Homo sapiens: one gene and its partner. Changing the gene in region 2 together with the main gene of any one other region gives a genetic interaction. Each region holds a gene or a part of one and is shown on either strand. Other genes may lie near its edges.

What was found.
Region 1: changes in TSPAN8 (region 2) and HAPSTR1 together harm fitness less than expected from each alone (positive genetic interaction), as found in Homo sapiens cells (one large-scale study listed by BioGRID).

What each region holds. Positions count from the first base shown.
Region 1 is NC_000016.10:9,118,840-9,122,408, forward strand, and holds the end of HAPSTR1 (HUWE1-associated protein modifying stress responses 1), read left to right. Parts: 3' UTR 1-2,796; downstream 2,797-3,569. UniProt on the Homo sapiens protein: Acts as a central player within a network of stress response pathways promoting cellular adaptability. The E3 ligase HUWE1 assists HAPSTR1 in controlling stress signaling and in turn, HUWE1 feeds back to promote the degradation of HAPSTR1.
Region 2 is NC_000012.12:71,126,930-71,130,752, forward strand, and holds part of TSPAN8 (tetraspanin-8), read right to left. Parts: intron 2,486-3,823; coding exon 2,402-2,485; intron 1-2,401. UniProt on the Homo sapiens protein: Structural component of specialized membrane microdomains known as tetraspanin-enriched microdomains (TERMs), which act as platforms for receptor clustering and signaling.

The DNA of each region.
Region 1 (3,569 bases), on a different chromosome or scaffold from region 2:
ACATATTTAATTCCCCTTTATGCCTTGGTTCTTGCTCCTCTTTCCACGTTGGATAACAATTTTTTGGTTGTTTTGTTTAAGTTGGTGCTCTGAAGCTTAATCTCAGTACCCTTTACTCTGAATTGTCAAATTTTGATAAAACGTGCCATTTTCTTTGGTAAGAGAAAGCAGGTCTTAATGTCTGCCAGAACACAATTTATATGCCTTATTGGCTTCATTAAACTTTTAGAAAACTTTAGCATTTGTTACTTTTTTCCATTGCGTTTACTTTCAAATGCACCTAATGAATTTGTCACCCAGTCGCAACTTTTCCCTTCTCTGTCCCATTGCTTTCTCCTTTCCCCGACGCACAGAATAAACATGAAGCTCAGCAGTAGAAGCGTAATGATTTCCCTCAGGAAAAACTTCTGACAGCTAGGTTTTTCAAGGGTTTCCCTGTGCTAGCTGAGATGCAAAACAAATCATGGAAGATTGCATACCTGTGTGGTATTTTAAAAACAAGTTGACTTTTTCAGTTTCTTGAACGGTTAAGGGTGGATTTAAAAACTAGACAGTTTAGTTTTGGGGAACAGAAGCTCTCTTCGTCTTAAGCCAGATTCTCTGATTCTTTTAGACGTCATAGCTCCTTAGTTCTGCTCCTGTCGCCCTAACTTGGCATGGGCAAGTTGAAGTTCATCCTTAGACTGCAGCGTTCTGAGCATGGCTGAAGTATTAAAATGTTTAATATTTTTTAGAGCAAAATTGTTGGAAAGCATTTGGCTGAATCTAAAGACCTGCAGTCAGATTCTTCAATGTGGTTTACCCAACTGGAGTAGTGATAAACACCTTAATCATAAAATGAATAAAAACAAAAAAACCATGGGGCTTGTCTGCAGTTTTGTTTTGGTCATCACATCTGAATAACTTTTTGATGCAATCAAATGAAGTTTAGGCTTTTAAAAAAGAATTAGCTTTCTAAATGTTTTTTTCTAAGGGCTACTGGAACTCATTAAACTCGAATAATTGTGGCTTTGGGCCTGAAGATTTCCATTCAACAGTGAAAACTGGCTAACTTCCTTTATAGTGAGAGGGATGGCCAACATCCAACCCAGAGGGCTAGTCAGCCTCAGAGGCCAGTGCAAGACGCCAAGAGATGATTTTGAAATGGGGCCATAAGTTTAGAAAATTATGAACAGAATGATTGAGTTTTTGGCCTGGCTACTACCTCTAGTGGTGACTACGTCAGCAGATTAATCTCATTGCATTTTACTTTATGTAGTATGTTGTAACCTGGTGCTTCATTCATTAGATTGGTGACTGAGGTATTTAGTCATGGTGAGGATGGGAATCTTCAGAGATACATTCTGGATTTGTGGAATAAAGTGACTAGAAAGGTTCTTCCAGAGCAACCCCTTGTTTAAAGTTATAAGTGTTTATGGTACCTGCTACCCCTTCTGGAAAGTTGTCGGCTTTGATGGTTTAGATGACCTTACCCCATAAGGCCAGCTTCTAGCCTCCCTTTGGAATATTTGAGGTGTGTGATGTTTTAGTGGGGGCAGCATTTGAGAGACGAGCAGGCCCGAGCACCCAGGCTGGCTGTCAGACCGTGTGTTGTGCTGTTGGGTTTGATGGGATGAGATATCCAGGGTTTTACTTCCTATAATGGGATCTGCAGGCTCCTTGTGAAGTTCAGTTAGACAGTAGCCTGTGACGTAGCAAGTCAAGTTTTCGATGGCCCCTCATTTTTTTTTTATTTAGTGCTTAAAAAAAAGATTTAAAACAGCAAAAATCAAGCCACACAGCAGCTTATAGTATATACAGGTCTTTTATACATTAGAAGTAATATGGTGAAATCTTTTTTTTTTTTTTTTTTTTTTGTGATGGAGTTTCACTCTCTCACCCAGGCTGGAGTGCAGTGGCACGATCTTGGCTCACCACAACCTCTGCCTCCTGGGTTCAAGCAATTTTCATGCCTCAGCCTCCCGAGTAGCTGGTATTACAGGTGCCTGCCACCACACCTGGCTATTTTTTGTATTTTTGTTAGATACGGGGTTTCAAATATGGTGAAATCTTGTGACAGAATAGTATTCCCTTGTACAGATAAGCCTTGATGCAGGTTACAGATTTTTTATAATTAGTAATGCAGCAGTGGAGTGTTTTCTTTTTCTTGTTTTTTGAGATGGAGTCTCTGTCGCTGGAGTGCGGTGGTGCGATCCCAGCTCACCGCAATCTCTGCCTCCCGGGTTCAAGCGATTCTCCTGCCTATAACTACAGGTGTGCGCCACCACGCCCAGCTAATTTAATTTTGAATTTTTAGTAGAGACGGGATTTCACCATGTTGGCCAGGCCAGTCTTGAATTCCTGACCTTAAGTGATCTGCCCGCCTTGGCCTCCCCAAGTGCTGGGATTACAGGCATGAGACACTGCGCCTGGCCTATGTTTTAAGTTTCTCTATGACAAATTTCTGTAGATGAACTATCTGGGTCAAAAAAATTCATCTATAAAATACTGATGGGTCTTGCCAAAGTACCTTCTGCAAGGTACCAGTTAATACTTCCATCAGAAAGTAAGAGCGCCTGTTCCCTTACATCGTAGCCAGTGTTGGGTATTTATACTTCCTTTGGCAGAAGTGACCTTTCAGTTTTAATCTGTTTTTTACCTGCTCGTATGAAGGAAGACTTTTTGCTTGATATCACGTGGGTTTGAATGCTGACTCTACTACCAGGTCTGGGAACCTAGGTAAGTTTGCCTCTCTGGGCTGTTTTCTCATCTGTGAAATAAATAGAAAACATAGAAAAATAAATTAAAAAATGTGAATGTTAGTGACTTGTGTTCCTTGGAAGTTGGATACATTTACATCTCCATTTATAATTCTCCCATCAGCAGAGCCCTGGAGAACTCTGGAATGTGGCTGATAGCTTATCTTAACATGCCATTGAAAAATTAGCCCTTTTTGGCTAGGCGTGGTGGCTCACGCCTGTAATCCCAGCACTGGGAGGCCAAGGCGGGCAGATCACGAGGTCACAAGAGATTGAGACCATCCTGGCCAACATGGTGAAACCCCATCTCTACTAAAAATACAAAAATTAGCTGGGCGTGGTGGTACGCACCTGTAGTCCCAGCTACTTGGGAGGCTGAGACAGGAGAATCACTTGAATCCGGGAGGTGGAGAGGTTGCGGTGAGCAAAGATTGCACCACTGCACTCCAGCCTGGCGACAGAGCAAGACTCCGTCTAAAAAAAAGAAAAAGAAAAATTAGCCCTTTCTTTTTTCTTTGAGACAGGGTTTTACTCTCTTGCCTAGGCTGGAGTGCTTTGGTGCGATCATAGCTCACTGCAGCCTCGATAGGTAACACACTAAGTGGTGAGTTTTCAGGGAAGGGGCTTGTTCACATGTAAGAGAGATTTTAATTTTTCAAACTGAAGTTGAATGCCCTCCTAGGAGATGCCACAGGCCGGCAAGTACAGGCTGCCTCACTTCACTAGTACTTAACCCTCAAGCAGGGAAGCTACTCCCCTTTAGCCCAAGTAGAGGGAGTATGGGGTGCTGGTGTGGTTGCTGTGCACGGCCGCTGTTGGGGAGGGCCGTAG
Region 2 (3,823 bases):
AATCTTTAGCATCCAATGTGAGAAGAATCCCTTAGGTATATAGTCTTAACATAGCTTTGAAAACAAATATTGGCCCACCTCACTAAAACCTATGCCTAAACATACTAACATAAGGTCTAAATATGGGGCGGTCTTTTTTTATATGATATTTTTCTGTGGAGATAATCTGAACATATTTTCTGCAGGAAGACATTTGCTTCTGTTTTCTTAAAAGTATTTTTTAGAGGAGATTTTCTGTTTCTGTATCTTTGTGTTTTTTTGAATTTGAACTTTGGAAACAAAGAAGGGAGATAGGCCTAAGTCATAGGGCAATAGGAAACTTGTACTAATGACTGTAAGATGAGCTATAAAATGCTTTGTTTTTGGATACATAATTTATAGACTGGGTGTCAGAAGACTTTTCCAATCTACTTTTTGAATAAAGGAAGATGGAATATAAAATGATTTGTTTCCCTTAAAAAGAGGGAGGGCAGGTTATAGACTGAGGAACTGAACAATTTTAAAAAGTTCAAACAATTATTTGAACCAACTATTTACCATATCTGCAGAGAGTCTAGAAATCACAATTAATTTGACTTCTCGAATTCAAAAACGGTTCTGTTTTATGATAGTAACGCAAAAACTTCATACCTATAAATTACTGTATAGAATGTTTGTATTAAGCTATTTTTCTCTGAATATGTCTTTAGAAGAACAAATAAAATATTTAAACATGTAATTAATACATGGAATATAACAATTTCATAAAATACTGAAATACATTAATCTTTTTGTAATCTTATTTTCCACTAGATGTATTTAAATTCTTGAAAATGCCTTTGACTATGACACAAAGGATTTCATCAACCTCCCCAATCAAGTATGTCCTTACTTTTTCTGGTTTTGCTAACTGAGGAGCATCTGTGATTTGAGCTAGTGATAGTCAATTGTCAGAACTTGAGTCTAACATGAAATATAACTCTTATATTAAATATCTCATTTAAAGCATGCTCTCTCATTCACTTAAATCATTCATGTAAAATCACTCTTGATTCATTTAAATCATTCATTTCTTACTCATCTTCATGGCCATTAGTCCTTATTTCTAAATTAGCATAAACCCAGAATACAAAGCAGAGAAATAAAATACATCTTACAAAATGCAGAATCAAGAGAAATAGACCTAATCCATAGCACCATTTGACTCTGAACATATATCAGACCTAAAGAAAGACAGCCATAACCTACCAACAAAGAATGCTTCATATTTATACCTATTCATCTGGACTACAAGAAAGTAATAACCCACAGTTTAATTTGCTGCTAATAGTCCCTAACCTTTCTCTAATAGCTGCCTGGGAAATTCCACCAGCAAACTAAATAACCACTTAGGACACTAAATTGCTTCATTCCCAGTTAAAATTTCTTTCTGGCAGTGATGTGGCACGAGTAAGAGGTAGAAAATTACCAGAAAGCCCAAGGAGTACCTTGCACAGCATTCCATGAGTGTGAAGCACAAGGCACTCAGCTGAGCTAACCAGCTCTCACAGGCATTAACCAGGGAGACACTTCACATTCTTGCTAATGCCCTGGAATAGGATTGTGAGTGAATTTGATCTACTTGATATTAAAATTACCCAAGATCTGGGATGATTCCAAAATGCTTCTCTGAAGCAGTTTTAATTCATTTTCTTGGCAAAGATTTTTAGGCCATGTGAAAAGTATCTTTCAGGTTTTTTTTTTTTTTAAAAAAAAAACATGCCAAGAAAGTTCATCAAGACAAAAATCCTATGTGGGATATTTTTCCAACATCAATAATTAAAGTGATGAAAGTAATACATAAGCCTCAATTTTCCTTGAAAATTTCTCCAAGTGAGTCAATAGTACTTAAGCTGAGGAAATCAGAGACAATTACCTCTACTTTTTAGAACTTCTTGGATTTCTCTAGAATGTAATAAGTAACAAAGAAAGAGCTCCTCACACTCTTGAGTTCAGTTTTTATTTTCTGTTTCAAAATCAAGATGAGAAATAAGAAATTGTAAAGGTCGTATTTTGCTTTGTTTGGTGCTTTTTCTTCTAACTTTGGAAAACTGTAACCCCTGTGCTAGTTTTCAGTGGGAAAAATATACCTGGCACTAAGAACTATGTGAAAATTAATTCTATCTTTTTCCCGGTAGAGAGGTCATTCAGAAGCAAGAATCTCAACCCTGCTCACTTCATAAGACTGGAATCTCCCCCTCAGACTCAGGCTGATCGAGGGAGATGATGGGCCTTTAGCATCCAGTGCTTTTCTAAAGCATCTGCGTTTTTTATGGTTGTTGTGGTTTTTTTTTTTCTGTTTGTTTGTTCACCATCAATATTTCTTGAAATTAATGAACAAGCAAGGGAATAAAAGAGTCAATAATACAAGATTATACTGTACCTCAATAACTGCCAGTCCAAATGATATTCCAATAACTATAATCAAATTTTTTGCCAAGAAGTCTTTTATGAAAGAAATACAGGTCTGTTAAAAAAAAAAAACATTAAAAGTTACCTCTCAGAAAAATTCGACCTTATATTAATCAAAATTTTTATTAATCTGGTTGACTTTTTACATTGCTATCAAGAAACACACTTAACGACAAGGAACTGGGTTATTCCTTCCACTCCCTGCTTCACCTTTGCTCCAAAAGGTTGTAACTGTTGTGGTTTGTTTATACATTGAAAAGCAATTGAGGAACAAAATTTTGCTTGACTGCCTAATTGTTGAATCTAGGGATTAATAATTACAAATAATAATTTTTCACCAACATATCCTCAAATGACAGATTTTATAATTTATACTATAAATTTTATAGCTGATAAAGCTATATATTTTACAACATAAAAGTATAAATCATAATTTTATCTTAACTTTATTCATTTTAGAGCTGATACCACCTTGACTAAGGATTTTTTAGGTTTGTAATCTAAAACAGAAAGGTTTCTGGTTGAGATTTTAGATAATAATATTGTAAATTTTCATTTTTAAAACAAGGTATTTTCTTTTTTTCTTTCTTTCTTTTTTTTTTTTTTTCTTTGAGACAGGGTCTCCCTCCAGCGCTGAAGCTGGAGTGCAGAGGCGCAATCTTGGCTCACTGCAGCCTTGACTTCCTGGGCTCAAGTGATCCTCCCACCTAATCCTCCCAAGTAGCTGAGACTGCAGGCATGTGCCACCATGCCTGGCTAATTTTTGTTGTGTTTTGTAAAGACATGGTTTTGCCATATTGCCCAGGCTTGTCTTGAACTCCCGGGCTCAAGCAATCCACCGGCCTCAGCCTCTGAAAATGCTGGGATAACAGGCTTGAAGTCACTGCTGCCGGAAAAAACAACATATTTTCAAAATCCCTTAATATTTATCAGGGTTATTTTTATCTTAAAAAGAAAAAACTTACTATGTCTACCACTATGCCATTACTTTAGATAAAAAAGAGAAATTAGGAAGTTGCCTCTCTGCTACATTTTTGAAATGTATACAATCCAGGATGCATTTTCATGCTTAAAACATTTTGGACTAGACCTAATAACTTCAAGAATTGTAAATTATGTGAAGAATTTTTTAAATGGAAAAAGACTACACAGTATAATTGTGTTATTTTTGTACTGCCCTGAAATATATTATCCCTTTGATGGTCATATATGTGCAAAGGGCTAACAAAGTATTGCTATTTGTTAAATAAAATAAAATTTCTCCAGAAGGCTAAGTCATCTTTCCCCTTCATTCCTGAATGTATTGAGTTTCTTCATTCACATTTAACCCAACGTGGTAAACATTCAAGGAAATTATTATGTCATTTAGGTTAACAATGAGATTAATGATTAT